6 linked regions of the Homo sapiens genome follow. The protein of the gene in region 3 purifies or fractionates together with the protein of the main gene of each other region. This does not show direct contact. Each region holds a gene or a part of one and is shown on either strand. Other genes may lie near its edges.

Region 1 (3,500 bases), on a different chromosome or scaffold from region 3:
CACATGGTTTCTCTTCCTAATAAGATCTTTTCCTACATTTCATGAGACTCAATTTTCAAAATTAAATTCTCATACAATCTCCCAGAAATACCCTGTGGCGGGTTTTTTTAGGTCAGCGGCTCCTCTGGCACCTGAATTGTTTATTTGCTTCCGACTGGTGGCTGCTCCTGGCTGCCCCTCGTGGAGCGGGGAGTGAAGGAGGGAAGCGTGTGGTGACTCTGCCCGTTTCCTTCGATCCCACGCAAGCTCCCACACCACCGCCACTGTTACGCCTCAAGGCACCTGTCCCTGCTCCTGCCCTCCACAAGCTCCCAGAATTAAGCCAGAGAGGACAGAGGCCAGTTTACACAGGGCAGGTGAACTGGCTGCAAATCATCTGTGAAGTTTCTGATTGGAAACAAACTCCTAAAAATCGAAAGAGCCCTGGGCCCCAAGTGAGGAGCTGGAGAGACGTCCACGTGGCCAGTCGGGCACCCTGAAGAATAAGCCGTGCCTTTGGGGAGCGGCTGGGGAAGGCTCGTTCCTCGGCTTTTGTTGTCTCCCCTGCCTCCAACGGATGTGCCTGGAAATTCTCTGGTAACCTGGCCCTTGTCCTTGGGGACTCGCTGGTCCACTGCTCCCTGTTTTGTAAATAAAGTTTTATTGGAACGAGGCTATGCTCACTGGTGCATCTATTTTCTATGTCTGCTTTCCAGCCACCGTGGCAGAGGGAGTTGCTAACAGAGACCCTGTGGCCGCAAAGCCAAAAATGTCTACTCTTGGGCCCTTCAAGAAAAAGTTTGCCAATCCCCGGTATAAACAAAATAGCAATGACAGAAAGAGCAGCTCTGAGGGTGCCCTCGATGTGCAGGAACGTCCTCAGTGCACCCGTGGAGGGACTCGTTCAGTAACGTCAACCCCACGGAACGAAGCTCCATGAAGGCCTCCAACCCCTGGAGGACACCCACGACCTAAGAGTCGGTCAGAAAACGTTAAGAAAGAATTTATTCAAAACCCTTAGAGTGCCTGGGCGTGGTGGCTCACGAGGCCTGTAATCCCAGCATTCTGGGAGGCCAAGGCAAGCAGATCACCTGAGGTCAGGAGTTCGAGACCATCCTGGCCAACATGGTGAAACCTCATCTCTACTAAAGATACAAAAATGACCCAGGGCTGGTGGTGTGCACCTGTAATCTCAGCTACTCGGGAGGCTGAGGGCAGGAGAATCGCCTGAACCCAGGAGGCACAGGCTGCAGTGAGCTGAGATTGCGCCACTGCACTCCAGCCTGGGCGACAGAGCAAGACTCTGTCTCAAAGAATAAAATAAAAATACAAAAAACCACAAAAACCCTTAGGGTGACTTCACCGCACATTTTTTGCCACCAGGAGTTACACGCCCCAATGGGTGCTGGTCCCTTCCACCTGTCCCCCCGAGAGGAGCCACGTTCACCCCAACAGTGCTGCTGCGGCGCCTGGGAAGGGCCTCCACGGCCTCTGTGGGTTCATCCTAACTTTAAGCTATCACGGCCCATAGGACGGGGACAAAGCCAATGCCATTTCCAGAGAAAATAAAGAAATACATGAATTCTAGAGAAAAGCATCAATACAATGCCTCAGGAGGCTGAGAGAATTTGGGGGACATTTAAACACTTAGAGAGGTAGAGGCGGAGGCCGCTTCCCCTTCTTCTCCAGAGAAAAGCCAATCACGGGAACTGTGCTGAAAGCCAGTTCTCTCTGCCCAAGGCCTAGGACCCAGGCAGCTTGCTGAGGAAGGAATTTATTTAATTTGCAACTGCTCAAGCTGCAATGATGGTGGGGTTTTTTTGTCTACAGAAAAACCTTAATGCTACTTTTGACATTTCTTCAGAGCAAAAACCCACCAGGACAATCTGGTGTCAATTCACTCTAAGGCGACTCTGCGTGACACAAGCTGAGCTGGCTGCTGACAAGATGCCTGGGACCATGGCTGAGCATGCTCCGAGCCCACTCCTCTCCTCACGCTGGTGGTGTGCACCTGTAATCCACATGGGCTCGGCCCACTTGGGTGCCCCACAGGCGCTGTCCTGCATAGAGGCTCTCAGGCAGGGGCGCAAGGCCAGGCCAGGGGCGTGTGTGGCTTCACCCGTAGCCCCTCAGTGACACACACAGTCCTGACCCCAAGGGATGCTGGGAAGCACAGCCTGGGGGTGGGGGTGGGGGGCTGAAGGTGCCCCTCCATGTCCTGGTAGCCACACTCGCCATGTCGTGGCCTGGGGGGGGCTGAGGCTGCCCCTCCGTGTCCTGGTAGCCACACTCGCCATGTCGTGGCCTGGGGGAGGGGGCTGAGGCTGCCCCTCCGTGTCCTGGTAGCCACACTCGCCATGTTGTGGCCTGGAGGCGCTGGGGATGCCCCTCCCTGCTCCCTGTCCTGGCATTAACGCTCCTCTCATGTTTGCAAGGGGAGAGGAGCAAGCAGAGCCCAGATGGGAGGCGGGAGGCGGGAGTCATGAGACACGTGCCCTCGGGGCTGTTTTTCTGAGACAAGATCTCACTCTGTCACTCAGGCTGGAGTGCAGTGGTGTGATCATGGCTCACTGCAGCCTCGACCTCCCAGGCTCAGGCAATCCTCCGGCTTCAGCCTCCCGAGGAGCTGGGACCACATGCTTGCACCACCACCGCCAGCTAATTTTTAAATTTTTTGTAGAGAAAGGGTCTCGAGATATTTCCCAGGCTGGTCTTGAACCCCTGGCCTCAAGTGATCCTCCGGCCTCAGCCTCCCAAAGGGCTGGGATTACAGGTGTGAGCCACTGCACATGCCTGTCCATGATACTTAATCAAATACACAAACGTGAAGAACGCCAGCAAAAATGGATTCATCAACAACCAAAGACAAAGTGCAGCTCTCAGGAACCAGGCGAGACGCAGACCGCAGCCGGATCCAGTCCCTGACCCTGCCCTGGAACCGGCACCATCCAACAGACATGGGAAATGGAGGGACAGTGGCCGCAGGGGGATGCTGGAAGCTCACGAAACCTCCTAGGGGGCGGCCGGGGGCTGAGGGAAGCTCACAAAACCTCCTAGGAGGTGGGCCCTGTCCTTGGTGCCGCCCCCTCCTCGCCACTCCCCCCACCCCTTCCAGGAATGCAAGGTGCCCGGCTCAGAGGGAGGAACCACAGCCCTCTCCTGGAGGCACAGGAGACGCTGCCCTGAGAGTCAAGAATTAACCAGATGGGTCCGGGCGGGCCACCACCATGTGTGTACAGAAAGTTCTGGTGGAACACGGCCACACGCGTCCCTTCACGCAGTGTCTAAGGCTGCTTCTGTTTTAGAACGCATAGTTGCCACAGAGGCCGCATGGCCCACAAAGGTGGAAATATTTACTGCCTGACCCTTTAAGACAACCTTTGCTGACCGCTGGTGTGGCCCTCAGTAAGCGTCAGTCTCCAAGTCCCTCTGTGTTAACGCACTTGACCCCATCACCAGGAAGTAAGTTCAGCTCTCGCCATTTTACAGATGGGGAAGCCGAGGCACAGACAGGTTAGGGG
Region 2 (4,223 bases), on a different chromosome or scaffold from region 3:
ATTAGAGGTCAAAAGGAAGGGTATCATCTAAGAAATGAATCTATAGTAAATAAGATGCTACTGTATGAACAAGGGGGATCAGCTGATGACAAAACAGGACAAAATCAGCGAACAATTTTTACAAGAAAATTGTATTCTAAAGAGGCAGGTGTATTCTAAAGAGACATTATATATTAATAAAAAGAATTTGAGCTCTAGGGATGTAGAGATACCTGGGTTTAGATCCTGACTTGGGCAAGTACACTGTATAGTAAAATTTCCTCCATTCTAAGAGAGCTATTATAATATTATAATAATATCTTCCTATGATGTGATTTATATCTGACTAATATATCAAAACTCAGGCTTGCAATAATCTCTTAATTAAACCTTGCTTTTGAAAGATGGTCTTACAGTCAAGCACATAAGTAAAATACACTAGTGCACCAAAGATAAATTTCCTTCTTAATGTAACAAGCACACTTAAACTACCTTAATCACTGGGGCCCGCCTAACTCCAGAAATATAGAAAATAATTTTAACATATTATGTATGTTTATCTCCTACAGAAATGTAACCATTTTTCCATGATTCTTGTCTCTTGCTTGAAGTATATTTAAATTTTCTATACTTTGAGAGTAATGAACTACCTATCTCTGTGGTTCTCAAAAATGGTAACCCTTTTATATCAAGTGTATAAGTTCAGATGTTATATATACTGCATCAGGACTGCTAAATAAGGAGGATCTAGGGACATATCTTTAACAAACAACTCAGTCAATTACTACCCACATTATAAAATAAGAAATTACTTGTCAACAGAAGAGCCAGTCTCTTGCTTGAGAACATCCGATTAAAGAGATAAGCTTGGCCTCAAATATTGGCCTTTTTAGCACTAAATTCTGACCACTGGGGTCATATACCTTAAGATAGAAAATTACTTTAAACTATACTGATATTGATTATGTAAAACCATTTTACCATCCAGGCTTGCTGAGATTATACATAAAACATAACATTCATCTCTAAAATAGCTAATCAAAAGTACTTAAAATGGATTCTTAGGTATGCTCAAATCCAAATCTTTAATCTTCAGTTTTCTTTATTTGCTTCAGAAGCATAGCAAATAATTGCATTTAAAAAAAATCTTGTTAGCCTGGTAATGTTTAATAATCCCAGAAATATAATTTAAATATTCTATAAAATATGTTTCTTTTGAAAAATGGGCATATAAATAGTAACATTAGACCACACAATGCATAGAATATAATAGTAATTACTCCCAAATAACTATACTCAAATGAACAGAGAGAGAAAACAATAGGCATTTGCAAATTTAATCATTTACCATGCTGGCCTAATTACTTGATACCTTTTTTTCTCTGTAGTGAAATATAACCACCTTACAATTAATAAAACAATAATGGTAACTTTCAACTGCAAAATGAGATCTTGAAATCTTAAGATGAAATTAAGATTGTTAAACTAACAGTGATGGAAAATAGCTGCCTTTTAAGTCCTAATTCAGTATTTATCTTAAGAAACACAATATATAAGTAAAATTTTCCTGCATTGATTACTTTGTATGAGTAAACAATGTTTTGTGTGCCAAAGTTTAACAAAATAATTATGTTATAATTTTTTTGCATAAAAGTTCCCAGAAAGTTGTTTTTTGTTTTTTGAGATGGAGTCTCGCTCTGTCGCCCAGGCTGGAGTGCAGTGGCGCGATCTCGGCTCACTGCAAGCTCCGCCTCCCGGGTTCACGCCATTCTCTTGCCTCAGTCTCCTGAAAGTTTTTTTATAGTATAGATTTGTAAAGAATCATCATTAACACACATATACTTGTATATAATTTCTAAGACCACAAGGCATAAATTCACATTTGTATATAATTTTCAAGACCATGTGAAATGGAGACCTTTTCATATAAAGCATATTCAGACAACTTAATGTTCATGTTGGCTTTTTAAAAAGTGAATGACTATTAGAGCAGTTGGACTAAAATGATTCAGACAAGGCCAAAAAAAAGACTAAATCTTGTTATACATTGCTTCTATTCAACAGAAAATTATTCAAAAATAAGCTATCTTTTACAGAAAGCATGGATTTAAAATAAAATTAATAGTCAAAATTATTTTAATTTTTTATAGATAGAAGTAAATATCGAGATAAAAAATCTTATGATAACTTCAGTTAGAATTCTGAATCAAATTACATATGAAAGTAACTTGCCTCTGTGGGATAATACGTTGTTTCAAAATTAGCATGGATTTAAGATTTCATAATATTAACTCTGTTTAATAGTTATATTGAAGACCCACTAATTAAATGGATTCTTAGGTATGCTCAAATCCAAATCTTTAATCTTCAGTTTTCTTTATTTGCTTCAGAAGCATAGCAAATAATTGCATTAAAAAAATCTTGTTATCATAGTAATGTTTAATAATCCCAGAAATAAAATTTAAATATTCTATAAATGTTTCTTTCAAAAAATGGGCATAAAATAGTAAGAAAGTAGTAAGAATAAAAACAAATTAGAACAACATTTTCTGTTAAAAACGTCAAAAAACACAAATGAAATTTTATAAATCAAGTTTCAAAAGAGTGAAAAGCTTTACAGAAATAAGCATTATACTCACATAGTCTCCACAAAACATTTTGATGGTAATTGTTAACCTCAGGGATGAAAATATTTGATCGATTGCATAAACTTGTTTCACTGTGAAGCCAGAAAGAATTAAGGTTCACTGTTAAATCAAATGTAAATATGTTCACTGTTCACCTCAGACTCAGGCAAGAAAATGTAAAAGCAAATCTGGATACAGCATGACTTGAGATACTGTATTTATACTTAGTTATCAGTCATAGGTGAGTAGGCAGAATTATTGCACAAAATAAGTAGAACCATTAACCTAATCCCCAGTTGTATGTTGATTTAAGACACATAAAGTAGCCAACTAATGAAAGAAATGTAATCTTTTGAAAAAGCTGATGACTTATGGAAAGCTAAGTTGATTACCCATAAAGTTAATCATTTATTTTCTGCTTAATTGTTGTTAACATGGAAACTCTTTCAGGTGCTCCAGCCCTAGTTTCCTATCTTAAATTGCTAGGTTCTATGTGTATCCATACAATTTTAAAAGAATATTTCAACTACTGTTTATCTGCTCTTATATTAAAAAATAATGTATTTAGGGGCTGGGCCTGGTGGCTCATGCCTCTAATCCCAGCACTTTGGGAGGCTAAGGCAGGCAGATCACTTGAGGTCAGGAATTCGAGACCAGGCTGCCCAACATGGCGAAACCCCGTCTCTACTAAAAATACACAAATTAAAAAAAAATTATTTTAAATATATTTAGAAAAGAATTCATTATCCACCAATAAAAGTCTTTGGAGAAATATATTCACCATCATTTTTGCACTTAATTTTCCTATATTTATATATATGTAATTTTAATATTAACTATTGCATTTTAAGGAAATAAATTTTAGAAAAACCTGTAAAGTTCAATATAGTGTTGGAAACTATCTAGATACATTCATATATGATTCCAAAAATAACAAAATGAATCTGTATTATATTATTTTACTGCTACTTGCTATTTATTGAACAATATAGTGTTCATTTATAAAAATTTTAAAATACTTTGAATAAGAATTAGGAGCAAATAATCCTTTATTGAAAGAACCAAATACTAACAAGACAAGTGTCAACTGATCAGCATCCATAGGTCTAGAACTACCCAAAATAATTCTGATGTTAAAATATGAGTAAAAGCCATGAAGCAGTATGTATTTATGTAATACACACACACACACACACACAAACACAAATATATATATATATAATGAGCAACTATATATATATATTCTTCAGCATTCAATTTATAATATTATCTGATTACCTTACCAGTATACCTGGTACTATGAGAGATATATGGAACCATGCTGCTTGGCTCAAAAACATTAAAATCTAGTAGGTCCTACTATGTATGTGTATGTGTCTGTGTATGAATCAGGGTCTTGTGTTTTTGCTATGTAGACAGCATATAGCAATTATAAAATTGTATAATTTATATTGTATAATTGCTATAATTGTATAATTTATATTGTATAATTGCTATATGTAGACAGCATATAGCAATTATAAAATAATAGATATACTTATTAAAACTATAGGATTCAGAATTAGAAACAAAAGAAGAATTTTCAACTAAAATTGTTTTTTAATTAGAAACAATAGA
Region 3 (3,500 bases):
GGGCCCCCCGCGCAGTACTCGGTGTGTGGCCCTGACCTGGGTCTGTTCCCTGCATCTCCTCAGGCCACCTTCCTGTCTGCTGCCCAGGGTCTGGGTCTGTGCACCAGACACACCCAGCCTGCAGGCCCCTCCCACGTCCTTGCCACCTCTGACCTCCGACCTCTGCAGTGCCCTCGGCCCTCTCCCAGTGGGAGAAGCTCTCGCCTGGGCCCTTGGCACGAGCTGTGCCTCCTCTTCCTCTCTCCCAGCACAGCTGCTCCTTCCTGTCTGCCAGGTCTTGGCCTGTGTCCTCTCCCCGTGTGTCCCCCGGTCTGCAACTGTCCTGCCTGTCCTTGTCACGAGCACTGTGGGGAGGCTCCTTGAGGTGTGGCTGACGAAGCGGGGAGCCCTGCGTGTCCACCCTCATCCGTCGTGCGGGGGTCCACGGGCCATGACCGTGAGGACGTGATGCAGCCCTGCCTCCCTCTCCACAGGTCACCCTCCACGGCCAGGATGTCCTCATGCTCCCTGGTGACCTCGTTGGCTTGCAGCACGACGCTGGCCCTGGCGCCCTCCTGCACTGCTCGCCGGCTCCCGGCCACCCTGGTCCCCGGGCCCCGTACCTCTCCGCCAACGCCTCGTCATGGCTGCCCCACTTGCCAGCCCAGCTGGAGGGCACTTGGGCCTGCCCTGCCTGTGCCCTGCGGCTGCTTGCAGCCACGGAACAGCTCACCGTGCTGCTGGGCTTGAGGCCCAACCCTGGACTGCGGCTGCCTGGGCGCTATGAGGTCCGGGCAGAGGTGGGCAATGGCGTGTCCAGGCACAACCTCTCCTGCAGCTTTGACGTGGTCTCCCCAGTGGCTGGGCTGCGGGTCATCTACCCTGCCCCCCGCGACGGCCGCCTCTACGTGCCCACCAACGGCTCAGCCTTGGTGCTCCAGGTGGACTCTGGTGCCAACGCCACGGCCACGGCTCGCTGGCCTGGGGGCAGTGTCAGCGCCCGCTTTGAGAATGTCTGCCCTGCCCTGGTGGCCACCTTCGTGCCCGGCTGCCCCTGGGAGACCAACGATACCCTGTTCTCAGTGGTAGCACTGCCGTGGCTCAGTGAGGGGGAGCACGTGGTGGACGTGGTGGTGGAAAACAGCGCCAGCCGGGCCAACCTCAGCCTGCGGGTGACGGCGGAGGAGCCCATCTGTGGCCTCCGCGCCACGCCCAGCCCCGAGGCCCGTGTACTGCAGGGAGTCCTAGTGGTGAGTATGGCCGAGGCTCCACCACCAGCCCCCAGGCAGGTGCCTGCAGACAGGGTGCTCACACAGGGCGTGAGGCCTGGCTTCCCAGTGAGGGCAGCAGCCCAGTTACTGGGGACGTCGGCCCCGGGCAGGTCCTGCTGGCTGGCTCCTCGGGCTACCTGGTGGGCTTTAAATTCCTGGAAAGTCACGGCTCTGACAGTGGCTCCGCTAACTCATTCCACTGTCTCATTTCACAAAATGAATTTAAAACTCTGCTCCCTGACCTCACACGAGCCCCCGTGAGTCTCTCACGCCCTCTGCTGTGTTCTCGCCTGGCTAAAGCGAGTGGCTTTTGAGGTGGAGTCTGAACCCCTGATGGGAAACTGCGGGCTGCCCGCGGTGCCACCATGCTGGGTACATGGGGGACAGGGCTGTCTCCATCTTGCGGGTACCTGCCTCTTCACCAGGGGCCTTGGGAGGGGCCATCAGAAATGGCGTGACCTGTGCAGCCTGTCCTGGGTTCTGTAAGCCAGTGTAGGTGCCTCCCCTCACTGCTCCGAGCTCTCTGGGTGAGGAGCTGGGGCAAGAGCGCCGGGAGGGTCTGAGAAGACTCAGAGAGAGGTGGACTCTTTGTAGCTGGTACTAGGTTTGCTTTACAGATGGGGAAACTGAGGCACAGAGAGGTTGAGGCATTAGTAGTACTACATGGCTGGCTGGAGAGCCGGACAGTGAGTGTCCCAGCCCGGGCTTGGCTCCCATGGCATGCAGAGCCCCGGGCACCTCCTCTCCTCTGTGCCCCGCGTGGGACTCTCCAGCCCGACGGGAGGTGTGTCCAGGAGGCGACAGGCTAAGGGCAGAGTCCTCCACAGAGCCCAGGCTGACACCATTCCCCCCGCAGAGGTACAGCCCCGTGGTGGAGGCCGGCTCGGACATGGTCTTCCGGTGGACCATCAACGACAAGCAGTCCCTGACCTTCCAGAACGTGGTCTTCAATGTCATTTATCAGAGCGCGGCGGTCTTCAAGCTCTCAGTAGGTGGGCGGGGGTGGGGAGGGGAGGGGATGGGGCGGGGCAGGGCGGGGGCGGGCTCCACCTTCACCTCTGCCTTCTGCTCTGCTTCATGCTGCCCGAGGACGCTGCCATGGCTGTGGGTGAGTGGAGGGAGGGACGCCAATCAGGGCCAGGCCTCTCACCTGCCACCTGGGCTCACTGACGCCTGTCCCTGCAGCTGACGGCCTCCAACCACGTGAGCAACGTCACCGTGAACTACAACGTAACCGTGGAGCGGATGAACAGGATGCAGGGTCTGCAGGTCTCCACAGTGCCGGCCGTGCTGTCCCCCAATGCCACGCTAGCACTGACGGCGGGCGTGCTGGTGGACTCGGCCGTGGAGGTGGCCTTCCTGTGAGTGACTCGGGGGCCGGTTTGGGGTGGGCACCAGGCTCTTGTCCCAGCCCCAGCCTCAGCCGAGGGACCCCCACATCACGGGGTTGCTTTTCTGAGCCTCGGTTTCCCTGTCTGTTGGGAGGTAACTGGGTGCACAGGAGCCCTGAGGCTGCACGGGAGCCGGGAGAGGCCTCAGCACAGCCGGGTGGGCCCTGAATGGAGGCCCGGGGCGTGACTGCAGAGTGGAGCCTCGGCTGGGTCCCAAGCACCCCCTGCCCCGCCACCGCCCACCCCTGTCCCGGTTCACTCACTGCGTCCCACCGCCCCGGCAGGTGGACCTTTGGGGATGGGGAGCAGGCCCTCCACCAGTTCCAGCCTCCGTACAACGAGTCCTTCCCGGTTCCAGACCCCTCGGTGGCCCAGGTGCTGGTGGAGCACAATGTCATGCACACCTACGCTGCCCCAGGTGAGGGATGAGGGGGTGAGGGGGCCACTGCCTTTCAGGCTCTGAGCACGGGGTCCCCCCAGCTCCCCAGTCAAGCTGCCCCCCTTCCTCCCCAACAGCCCTCACTGTGACCTCACCTGGGCTGATGGCTTAGGCCCCTACTGGGGTGAGGGAGGGGCCAGGCGTGGGGGGAGTGGACAGGGAAGCTGGGCCCCTGAACTGCGCCCCCCGCCCTCCCCGGGCCTGGCTCTTGCTGCTCTGCTGCCCCGAGTGCAGCTGCACTTGGAGGCGGTGCCGTCCTCGCCAGGCAGCCCTCAGTGCTGCTACACCTGTGCTCCGTCCCGCACGTGGCTTGGGAGCCTGGGACCCTTAAGGCTGGGCCGCAGGTGCAGCCGTTCACCCCGGGCTCCTCAGGCGGGGGGCTTCTGCCGAGCGGGTGGGGAGCAGGTGGGGGTGCCGCGG
Region 4 (3,500 bases), on a different chromosome or scaffold from region 3:
GCCTATAATCCCAGTACTTTGCAGGTAGATCATTTGAGGTCAGGAGTTCACGACCAACCTGGCCAATACGGCGAAATCCTGTCTCTACTAAAAATACAAAAATTAGCCAGGCATGGTGGCAGGTGCCAATAATCCCAGCTACTTGGGAGGCTGGGGCAGGAGAATCGCTTGAACTCAGGAGGTAGAGGTTGCAGTCAGCCGAGATTGCACCCCTGCACTCCAGCATGGGCCACAGAGCGAGACTTCATCTCAAAAAAGAAAGAAAAAAAGACCAATAACAGCTAAGACAAACATATTTAAGCATGCGTTCCGTTTATGTTATAAAATTACAAAATTAATCTTGCCAATGTATTCAACAGTATCTTCAAATATGGATTAGCCCAGTTCTTATTATTTAAACCATTCATAAATGCGAAGAGTCTTTGGGCTGAGTCCTCTGACTTAACACAGGACACCTAGATTCCAGTCAAGTGTATTACACTGGTCTTTATAATGTGCTTACAACACAGCAGAAACTGTATCATCTGTGAAGCTAAAATTTAGTATTCAATTCCAAAAGATCTCTGAGAACTCCTGAACTCATGCCATAAAACCACCTTGTGGCCTGCTAATGTTTTGGCCATTAATACCTAAAGCAGGACCAAGAAGAAGGAAGTCTATTTTGTCTATAAAAACACTTGAGTAACTGAGCGAGTAGAAGACAACACCATGCTCAGCTCAGTCTACATTATCACTCCCATTCAACAGGTGGTGAGCCTAATGGCAGGACAAGCATCTACTGCAAGCCACACCCTATGCTACGTTCCCTGGAAAGACGCAAAAGGTCTTGGCCCTTCAAGGCTGTGAAATCCACCATGACAAAAATCTTGTGATTTTTTTTTTTTTTTGAGATGGAGTCTGGCTCTGTTGCCCAGGTGGGAATGCAGTGGCACAATCCCGGCTCAAGGAAACCTCCACCCCCTCAAGTGACTTGAGAAGAATCACCTCAAGTGATTCTTCTGCCTCAGCCTCCTGAGTGGCTGGGACCACAGATACCCACCACGACGCCTAGCTAATTTTTGTATTTTTAGTAGAGACGGGGTTTCACCATGTTTGCCAGGCTGGTCTTGAAGTCCTGACCTCAGGTGATCTGCCCACCTTGGCTTCCCAAAGTGCTGGGATTACAGACATGAGCCAACAAGCCCGGCCGATCTTGTGATTATTTACTATGTCCTAGATTACAATACATGGCCCTTGCCACCACCTCCCCACCGTGTACCTACAGCACAAAAGCTAATTAATCCTCACAGTTTTTCACACTGAGCCCAGACTTGACTCCACTGTCTTGTTCATCAAGACCCTCAAGGCAACCCTTAGCAATCAGGACTGGCATGTGAGATGAGACCTATACGCCATCCCAGTCTCAACACCATGAGATGCTCCAACGTCTACATACGCTAAAATGAGCTTGCAGAAAAGAGGTGGAGAAGGGCTGGGCACACAGCTAATGTCAGGCTTCACTGAAGGAAAGCCAGGACAGAGATAAACGGAGGGAAAAAGAACTCCAGGTTTGCAGCATGACATAAGGAAAATCGCTCAAGTTAAAACACACATGATGTGCTTGGAAATGGGGAGCATGCCTGGAAGAGTGTTCATTTAGAGAAGCAGCAAACCACGGCTAAAGAAGGAATCCGAATGGCATCACAGGAAAAAAACACTAGAGCAGGTAACTGTGGGCCATGCCCTTTTGTCACTTCGTTTCCCTGGACTTCAGCTTCCTTAAGGTAAGTGAATGAGGGAGTTAGATCAGAGCGGGGATGGGAATCCCTGGTGCCTGAGCCGAGGAGCCTTGCTTCCACTCTGAAACCATCTCAGCACATCTGACACAGCCAAACAGGCTGAGATCTAAGGCAGGGCTGCGATTCTCACTGACTAAAGCTATGATGGAGCTGCCTGCAACTGGCAATAAGGAGCTTTCTGCTACTCACCTACCTGCCTAAAATGTCTCTATTCATCATTGGTTAATAAAATAATAGAATACATGGTCTCTCACCCATCTCCTTAAATTCTTCATTGGTCAGTTCCAGCCATGCAGCATCCATGTCATTGAGGTCATAGCGACACACGCTGTCAGCCAGCGTCCGGATGTCCACATAGCCCAACTCGGGAGGCTCAGAGCCTGATGACACGATGTACTTCTTGGGCCTGATGAACATGAGGGATTTCTCTTCAGACACAACCCTGGATAATAAAAAAACAAGGCAGCCAGGTTACCCTTTCAGCCACAGACAATGAAGTGTGCCACAAGGCCCCAAATGTCTTCCTCTTCCAACCCTTAGAGCCCCAGGTCATCACCAGAGGCTGAAAACCTGAATGTCACTGCTAATAAAACCTTAACTAGAAGTTGTTAAAGCCTGCTAACAGGCAATAGATACAAATGAAAACACTGTAGAAGCCTTCAAAATCTGCTTCCCGGGACCCTGCTGTGCCCTGCCCACCACCTCTGACCACTCTGGCCTGCAGCCAACACCAAAACACACTGACCCATACATTTCAAGAGTTAGTCATTAAATCACTTTCCCTTAACCAGACCTGCCCATCCCTGCTGGAGGCCATTAGAACCAGGGCACCACACAGGCAGGGCAGGCGCAGCAGACTCTGAGAACCAGAGGGAGAAACCCGCCAACCCTCACACCTCACAAAAAAAAAGAGGGAGAGAGGGAAAAGAAAATCAGGCCTTGGGCTGGGGCAAGGTGGCCCAAGCCTGTAATCCCAGCACTTTGGGAGGCCGAGGCAGGCGGATCATTTGAGGTCAGGAGTTTGAGACCAGCCTGGCCAACACAGTGAAACCCCATCTCTACTAAAAATACAGAAATTAGCCAGGTATGATGGCACACGCCTGTAACCCCAGCTACTCGGGAGGCTGGGGCAGGAGAATTGCTTGAACCCAGGAGGCGGAGGTTGTAGTGAGCCAAGATTGCACCACTGCACTCCAGCCTGGGCAACAGAGTGAGACTGTCTCAAACGCAAACAAAAAAAAGGAAATAAGACCCCGGCCATTACCAAAAAATCTAAGAAACAGAGTCCCAGCCAAGAAGGGGACTGACTCTCCCAACATATACCCATGATCCCAGGAACAAAAGCACAAGTTTCTCCTCCTGGTACTGCCACACAATCTCTCCCGACCTTTAACACCTGGAGTGGTGCCTTCCAACTCACCCCACTCAAAATAAGACTGCATGTGCAAGAGCAAATCACTCCCGACTTGGAACCAAAAAAAGGCCATCTTCCTAATCACAGACCCCAGGCCTCAACAAAGTCCTTCCACATATGCATTTCCACAGTTTAAATTACTGTCAACAGGCTGCCCAGAGTCTGTCAGAGTACCTTCATCACCCTTATATTACGGGAGTGATTTTATCTACGTGACACTGACATGGACAAACTGAAGGGATTTATTTCTCCTACTCAGCCAAGAGCAGGGATCCAACTTGCTCAGGGCTCCAACTTTAATACAGCTT
Region 5 (3,500 bases), on a different chromosome or scaffold from region 3:
CGCCCCACCCCACCCCGCTTCACGCCACCCAGTGCCAGGCACTCATGGGGCCTCTCTTCTGCTCTCTCCCTGCTCGGCCGCCTCCCCGGCAGTCTCGCCCAAGAACTTCAAGGTGAAAATGATCATGAAGACATCAGTTCTGCTCAGCTGGGAGTTCCCTGACAACTACAACTCACCCACACCCTACAAGGTGCGACTGCCCAGCCAGCAGGCAGGCAGGCAGGCAGGGTCAGGGGTTGTAGTTCAGCAGGGCTTAAGGCTCAGTTTGGAGTTGGTGTGAAGTGAGGGATCAGGGCTCAGTCAGAGATGGGTCTCAGCTAGGATTGAGGCTTAGTCAATACTGGGAATCAGACTTGGGGCCCAGCCTAGGATTGGAGATCAGCTGGAACTGAGGTTCAGTCAATATTGGGGATCAATGTTGGGCTCAGCCTTGGATTGTGGCTTAGCTGGGATTGAGGTTCAGTCTGGGATTAAGATTTAGTCCATATTGGAAATCAGAGTTGGGGCTCAGCCTTAGATCATGGCTTAGCTGGGACTGAGGCATAATCAGGATTGGGACTCAGAGTTGGTACTTAGCCTGAGGTCAGAGTTTAGTCTGGAGTTGGTGCCAAGTCTGGGATCGGGGGTCAGCCTGGGATTGAGGTTCAGTCTGAGATCAGGAATCAGTCTAGGATCAGGTCTCAGAGGTGGGTTTCCACCTAGGGTCAGCGCTCAGCTGGAATTCAGGATCAGTCTGGGTTCAGGGTTCAGTGGGATTGGGGCTCAGTCGGGACTGGGAATTCAGCATGGGATCAGGGCTCAGTCAAAGTGGGCTTCTACCTAGGATCAGGACTCAGCTGGAATTTAGGCACAGTCTGGGGTCAGGGTTCAGTGAGGTTGGGGCTCAGTCAGAGTTGGGGACTCAGCCTGGGATCAGGGATCAGTCAGTGTTAGATTTCTGCCTAGGGCAGGATTCAGTGGGATCAGGGCTCAGTCAGGGTGGGGGACTCATCCTGGAGCTGGGGCTCAGTCCATGGGCATGAGCCCACCAGGCCCTGCTGAGCTAGCCCTGGTCCGCAGATCCAGTACAATGGGCTCACACTGGATGTGGATGGCCGTACCACCAAGAAGCTCATCACGCACCTCAAGCCCCACACCTTCTACAACTTTGTGCTGACCAATCGCGGCAGCAGCCTGGGCGGCCTCCAGCAGACGGTCACCGCCTGGACTGCCTTCAACCTGCTCAACGGCAAGCCCAGCGTCGCCCCCAAGCCTGATGCTGACGGCTTCATCATGGTGTATCTTCCTGACGGCCAGAGCCCCGTGCCTGTCCAGTATGCTCACCCCCATGCTCCGGGTTCCTTGTCACCCCCATCAGCCTACTATATGGCTGGGGCAAGCCACGTGCCCTCTCTGTGCCTCAATTTCCTTGCCTATGAAACACAGACCCTATCAGCCCTAGTTCATGGGGTCATCCAAGATTCAATGCTTCTCATGGGTCATTGTCACTAAATGTGTCCTGTGTCTGCTCTTCTAGCATTTCCTGATACCCCATATGCCTGACCCTCCACTGGGTATTACTAGGGCCCCTGAAAGGATTTGGTTCTGGGCTTCCCAACTAGTGGGGAGGCAAAGCTGAGAGTCCCCAGTGGGGAGAGGAGCACTCTGCCTCAGAGGCAGAGAAGATTTAAGGGCTACAAGGTTATGTGGGCATTGAAGCTGGAGCTTTGAAGGATGTATAGGAGTTTAACAATGAGCATTACATGAAGTAAGCCTTCTACGCAGAAAGTACAGCATCATCCAAGGCCTGGAGGCCTGAGTCAGCAACTGTGGCGTTTGTGGATGGGGCATAGGGGAATAGGCTCATTGTATGAACAGAAGGGAAGACTCAGAGAAACGGCTTCCCCCGTTTGCCCCCATGAAGCATCCCTTGGTCATCCCTATCGACAGCCCCTCTGACTCTTTCCCATCTCCCTACAGGAGCTATTTCATTGTGATGGTGCCACTGCGCAAGTCTCGTGGAGGCCAATTCCTGACCCCGCTGGGTAGCCCAGAGGACATGGATCTGGAAGAGGTGAGGGCCTGGGGCCCAACCCGCAGGGCCCAGATGCATTCCAGTTTTCACGTGCTCTGTTGCTCCCAGCTGAGCTCTGAGCCACCCATGACTCTGTTCCCGCAGCTCATCCAGGACATCTCACGGCTACAGAGGCGCAGCCTGCGGCACTCGCGTCAGCTGGAGGTGCCCCGGCCCTATATTGCAGCTCGCTTCTCTGTGCTGCCACCCACGTTCCATCCCGGCGACCAGAAGCAGTATGGCGGCTTCGATAACCGGGGCCTGGAGCCCGGCCACCGCTATGTCCTCTTCGTGCTTGCCGTGCTTCAGAAGAGCGAGCCTGTAAGTCCTGAATGGTGTCCGCCCACATCCAGACACACCTCTGAATGAGGCAGACCCCATTCCCCAGGGCCCTGACCTCTGTGGTCAGTCACAGGCAGCTCCCTGTGGTCAGAGCTGGGCAGAGGGGAAGACTTGGGAGCGGAGGGATCCTGAAACGAAGGTTTCTTAGAGGAAGAGACCTTGGAGCTGGGGCGTTGAGGGGTGAGTAGGAGTTCAACAAAGAAAAAGCATCCCAGGATTTGCATGTGCAAAGGTCTGGAGGTACAGAAAGGAGAGTGGCTGGAGCAGAGAAGGGAATGGGGAGAGCAAAGATTGGCAGGGACCAGGTCACATAGGCCACCAGGGTCAAGGTTCTAGGAATATAGGAGGATCTAGAGCGGGGGAGAAACGTAGGTTCATGTTTGAGAAAGACCCATCTGGCCACTACAAGGAGGGTGGACACTGATGGAGACCCCCCTCCTTTCCCTGCAGACCTTTGCAGCCAGTCCCTTCTCAGACCCCTTCCAGCTGGATAACCCGGACCCCCAGCCCATCGTGGATGGCGAGGAGGGGCTTATCTGGGTGATCGGGCCTGTGCTGGCCGTGGTCTTCATAATCTGCATTGTCATTGCTATCCTGCTCTACAAGAAGTAAGCCCCATGTCCTCCCCGACTTGACTTGACAGCAGGGAGGGCTTCCTGGAAAAGGAGGGAGGAGTTGTCTCAGAGAATCATCACTAAAGGTCTCTGTTGTACACATGGGGAAACCGAAGTTCAGAGAGGTTAAGCCACTTGATCAAGGTCACACAGCATGGGAATGGCAGAGCTAGGGCTCAAAGCAGGCCAGTGGCTTGGCTTCTCCTCTTAACCCCTATCTTCAACTCAGCAAGATTTGGGGTAGAGGCTGCCTGTGTCCAGTTCAATGAGGATAGCAATTGTAGTGGCCCCATGGGGCACATCCCAGGGCTGAGATAAGCCTCCTTGTGGTGTCGATAGGCAGGGGGACAAACAGGAAATATGAGCACCATTTTCCAGAGGAGACCAAAGCTCACAGAGGTTAAGGAAGGCACTGAGAGTCACAGAACAAGCCCTTGATGGCCGGCACACCCTCACCTTTCTTCTTTTTTTCCCCCTTCTCACCTGTGTCT
Region 6 (3,500 bases), on a different chromosome or scaffold from region 3:
AGAATACTTTTACATACACAATTGTGTTGGATGATTTAATAATGTATCGACCAGGAAAATGAGAAAGCACCCCTCCCCCTTACCTTTTACATTGAAGGTAGCCCAGACTTGGCAGCCTCTAGGGAACCAGCAAGGTCAGAGTCCATCACACAACTTTCCTGCTAAAGTGGTATTTGCCAAATCATGTCCAGAGGTGTTGTTTCTACAATCTTCTTGGCAACTCCGAAATGGGCTGCATTTGGGGCACTTCCTTTTGCCATCCTTCTGGCCCTTCTTGCCCGTCAAAAGCTTTTGTCTGTGGGCTTTGGAAATAGTCCAGTTTTTAAGGTGTTTTATTTTTCAGAGTTAATGGTTTCTTGACTAATCAGACTATGAAAATGCCTTCTCTAGGTTCTTTAATAGTTATACCAAGTGTTATTCCCATTTTAGGAATGAAGAAACTAAGGCTGACAGGCAAAGGTCATGTAGCCAGCATGTGGCAACACTAGAATAAATTGGCAGACTCAACACCATTAGCAGACCTGTCTGGAGGGAATGGTGGGTCTTGAACTTTCAAGTACCCTCTAAACTTTTTCAGCAGGAATTTCAGAAGTCTCAAGAATTCTGAGCTCCCTGCTGGCCATGGGACATTGTGCTGATATGGTGGGAAAAATGCAGGTTGAGAAAGCCTTCGCATCCTGCCCTGTTGGAGGCTGGTGTTTGGGATGGGTATGAAGGCCTTTGGCGGTGGCTATAGCTTATGCAGACCTGAAGCAATATACCTCTGGGATGGAAGATCCTGCTTATTTTGGGATAATTTCTAAATCTGTCATATCTATCCCCAACCCTGTCCCCATTAAATGGCTAATTGCCAAAAAAGAGGAAGCAACATCTTCAGCTCTAGCAAGTCTCGGGGATGTCTCACTCATTGTGAGGACTGTGAGGATTCGGTATATATTTTTAAGTGAGTGAACCTTGTTACATGTTTTAACCTTGGTTCCTCCTGTCAAGAATTTTATCTTCTCATGTCTTGGGCACCTTTTCCCTCTACCCAGATCAAATAGCAAAATGCTTAGTTAATCTTTGAGAGGATAGAATCCATGGGAAGCACAGGATGAAATGATGACGCTGTGCTAAGCTGTGTCACCGTGGGTAAGCCCCTGCCCTTGCTGTGACTTTCCACTTCCTAAATTAGAATGGAAGGGGGAAAAAAAAAAACCATAACCCAACTTCATTTTTATGAGTGGCCCTTTAGAAAATAGTGTAATCCGTTGAGTTTCCATTGTACCTTTCCTCAGAGATGCTCAAAGGGGCGGGGGTGCCCTTACATGGAACATGATGAGAGTGAGGATTAATCACTCCCAGTCCTCTGGGAGGGGGGAAGTGACCTGAACTTTCTAATTGAAAAAGTAGGAAGTGTGTGCCCAATGCCCAGATGAGTGGGAAGATTACTGTAGTTGATTGAGGAAATGCCGTATTTATCATTCACCCTTCCCATGACCTTTGTTTTTCCCTAATGCCTTAAAAAATAATAAGGAAACATTGTCCTACCTGATTCTACCACTGTTCATCTCACGCAGTGTGCACTCCCTGACTCTGAATTTTGCAGCTTTGAGACTGAGGTAATTGAGACTGATAGGGATTTAAGGATATTTGGTTCCCACAAGAATAAGCTAATATTAAGTTATTATTTTACTTGTGGAGAAGAACTAAATTGTATAAGCTGCCTGGTTCTTCTAGACACACATTGCCTAGTGAAAAAATTAAAATTTTGAAGAAAAAGCAGTTTTACTTGTTAATACTTGCCATGTGTCTCACCCACAAATAGCCTCATTTAAAACTTTGCCTTACCTAGCATGAATGGATAAAGAAAAAGGAGAGTTATTAGGGAATCTAAATTCCCAACTAACTTTAGCACTGATAGTGGTGAAGCTATGGGCAAGACATTTATTTTGTAAGTGGGGGTAAAACTTTGGAACGTGTTCAAAGCCTAGCTGCTCTAGTAATCCTCTCTCCTCTTCTGGAGTGGAAGATATTGGAAGTCTGAGAATAAGCAAAGCATGCAGATTATGAAGCTGAGGGGTTATAACTATTTCATTTATTGAAATATATTTCAATGATATTCAACTTGCTCAGAGAGAATCCGTGAGCTGTATTTTAAAAATCAATACAGGCTGGGCACGGTGGCTCACGCCTGTAATCCCAGCACTTTGGGAGGCCGAGGTGGGTGGATCATGAGGTAAGGAGTTCAAGACCAGCCTGGCCAAGATGGTGAAACCCCGTCTCTACTAAAAATACAAAAATTAGCCAGGCGTGGTGGCGAGCGCCTATAATCCCAGCTACTCAGGAGGCTGAAGCAGGGAATTGCTTGAACCCTTGGGCGGAGGTTGCAGTGAGCTTAGATTGCGCCACTGCACTCCAGCCTGGGCGACAGAGTGAGACTCCATCCCCAAAAAAAAGAAAATTAATACAAAGTGGTCACATAAATCTTTTAGAGATCCTTAGTCAATGTCTTTAAAATGTTTTTTAAGTGTTGTGCTTTCTCATTAAAGGTATGATATACCTTTAATTAAAGCTAAAGATATACCACTTTAGCTGTGGTTCCTTTCTGGTAGATGACCTGCCTTTTCCTTTTTGTTTTATTTGTCCACTTGTATGTGTTACTATTTTTCATTTAAACTCTGGCACCAAGAGCTGTACCGAAAGAGGCACCAACAAATGTGGTTGCTCCATAATGGAGAGAATGTCAAGAATGTTGACTATCTTTAGACCTGCTTCATTAATAGATAAGATAGAAACTAAAGAACCCACCCAGTTGGAAGAAGTTATTAGTCAAGTAGTGCTGCACACGTGACCACAGAAGTTAAAAAGGTAAATAATGTGTCTCTACATGTGGCCCACTCCAGTGAATTTGGAGAAGGATTTCTCCTTGGAGTCTTAAGAGGATATTTTTAAATTTAAGTGAACAATGTATTTTATTTGCAACTATTAGTTATGACTGAAACACACATAATACGTTTTGATTTTCTTTTTTCATTTCAGCACAGTGAAATTATAATCTGGACACGAGTTCCTAATTATTGCTTTAGTAGCTGGTAATGCACTTAGGAAAGTTAGAAATGAGTAAAGGAGAACCACAAAATAATAGTAATAGCACCATATGTCATGCATTTTAAGAAAATTGCTAATGTCTACTTTTTGGCCTTAAGTTGTAGTTGTGGGAGGCTGCTTCAGGGGGAGGTGTCTGGAACAAGGGGCTCTTCTGCTCCGCTAAGCTTTGGAGCACCAAGTTCAGGCTTTGTGTAGATAAGCTCAAGGATTTTTCAACAGGGGTGGGGGAGTGGAACAATCTAAATTTAAACTATAGAATCAACATTTTCTTTAAAAATTGTTCCAGTTTTCAAGAGGCGTAGGTGGATCCTGTGAATTATGTGATAATGCACACGCTTTTCCTACATCCTGCTTATGTCAAAACATTTCCAGAGACTTTCATTTTGGAGGTTTTATTTTCAGGCTACAGA

Evidence for each region.
Region 1: the proteins of PKD1 (region 3) and PRKCZ purify together in Homo sapiens (co-immunoprecipitation; one large-scale study listed by IntAct). This does not show direct contact.
Region 2: the proteins of PKD1 (region 3) and ANXA10 purify together in Homo sapiens (affinity purification with western blotting; one study listed by BioGRID). This does not show direct contact.
Region 4: the proteins of PKD1 (region 3) and JADE1 purify together in Homo sapiens (affinity purification with western blotting; one study listed by BioGRID). This does not show direct contact.
Region 5: the proteins of PKD1 (region 3) and PTPRS purify together in Homo sapiens (affinity purification with western blotting, with the first as the bait; one study listed by BioGRID). This does not show direct contact.
Region 6: the proteins of PKD1 (region 3) and ATP1A1 fractionate together in Homo sapiens (co-fractionation; one study listed by BioGRID). This does not show direct contact.

What each region holds. Positions count from the first base shown.
Region 1 is NC_000001.11:2,165,411-2,168,910, reverse strand, and holds part of PRKCZ (protein kinase C zeta type), read right to left. Parts: intron 621-3,500; coding exon of another isoform or gene 344-620; exon of another isoform or gene 1-343. UniProt on the Homo sapiens protein: Calcium- and diacylglycerol-independent serine/threonine-protein kinase that functions in phosphatidylinositol 3-kinase (PI3K) pathway and mitogen-activated protein (MAP) kinase cascade, and is involved in NF-kappa-B activation, mitogenic signaling, cell proliferation, cell polarity, inflammatory response and maintenance of long-term potentiation (LTP).
Region 2 is NC_000004.12:168,091,114-168,095,336, reverse strand, and holds the start of ANXA10 (annexin A10), read right to left. Parts: upstream 2,801-4,223; 5' UTR 2,637-2,800; coding exon 2,619-2,636; intron 2,601-2,618; exon of another isoform or gene 1-2,600.
Region 3 is NC_000016.10:2,111,899-2,115,398, reverse strand, and holds part of PKD1 (polycystin-1 isoform 1 precursor), read left to right. Parts: coding exon 1-21; intron 22-248; coding exon of another isoform or gene 249-364; intron 365-473; coding exon 474-1,229; intron 1,230-2,106; coding exon 2,107-2,238; exon of another isoform or gene 2,239-2,242; intron 2,243-2,333; coding exon of another isoform or gene 2,334-2,358; intron 2,359-2,435; coding exon 2,436-2,611; intron 2,612-2,925; coding exon 2,926-3,059; intron 3,060-3,500. UniProt on the Homo sapiens protein: Component of a heteromeric calcium-permeable ion channel formed by PKD1 and PKD2 that is activated by interaction between PKD1 and a Wnt family member, such as WNT3A and WNT9B. Both PKD1 and PKD2 are required for channel activity.
Region 4 is NC_000004.12:128,847,700-128,851,199, reverse strand, and holds part of JADE1 (protein Jade-1), read right to left. Parts: intron 2,221-3,500; coding exon 2,033-2,220; intron 1-2,032.
Region 5 is NC_000019.10:5,218,813-5,222,312, reverse strand, and holds part of PTPRS (receptor-type tyrosine-protein phosphatase S isoform 1 precursor), read left to right. Parts: intron 1-92; coding exon 93-190; intron 191-1,059; coding exon 1,060-1,313; intron 1,314-1,959; coding exon 1,960-2,053; intron 2,054-2,158; coding exon 2,159-2,374; intron 2,375-2,845; coding exon 2,846-3,003; intron 3,004-3,500. UniProt on the Homo sapiens protein: Cell surface receptor that binds to glycosaminoglycans, including chondroitin sulfate proteoglycans and heparan sulfate proteoglycan.
Region 6 is NC_000001.11:116,379,744-116,383,243, forward strand, and holds part of ATP1A1 (sodium/potassium-transporting ATPase subunit alpha-1), read left to right. Parts: intron 1-3,500. UniProt on the Homo sapiens protein: This is the catalytic component of the active enzyme, which catalyzes the hydrolysis of ATP coupled with the exchange of sodium and potassium ions across the plasma membrane.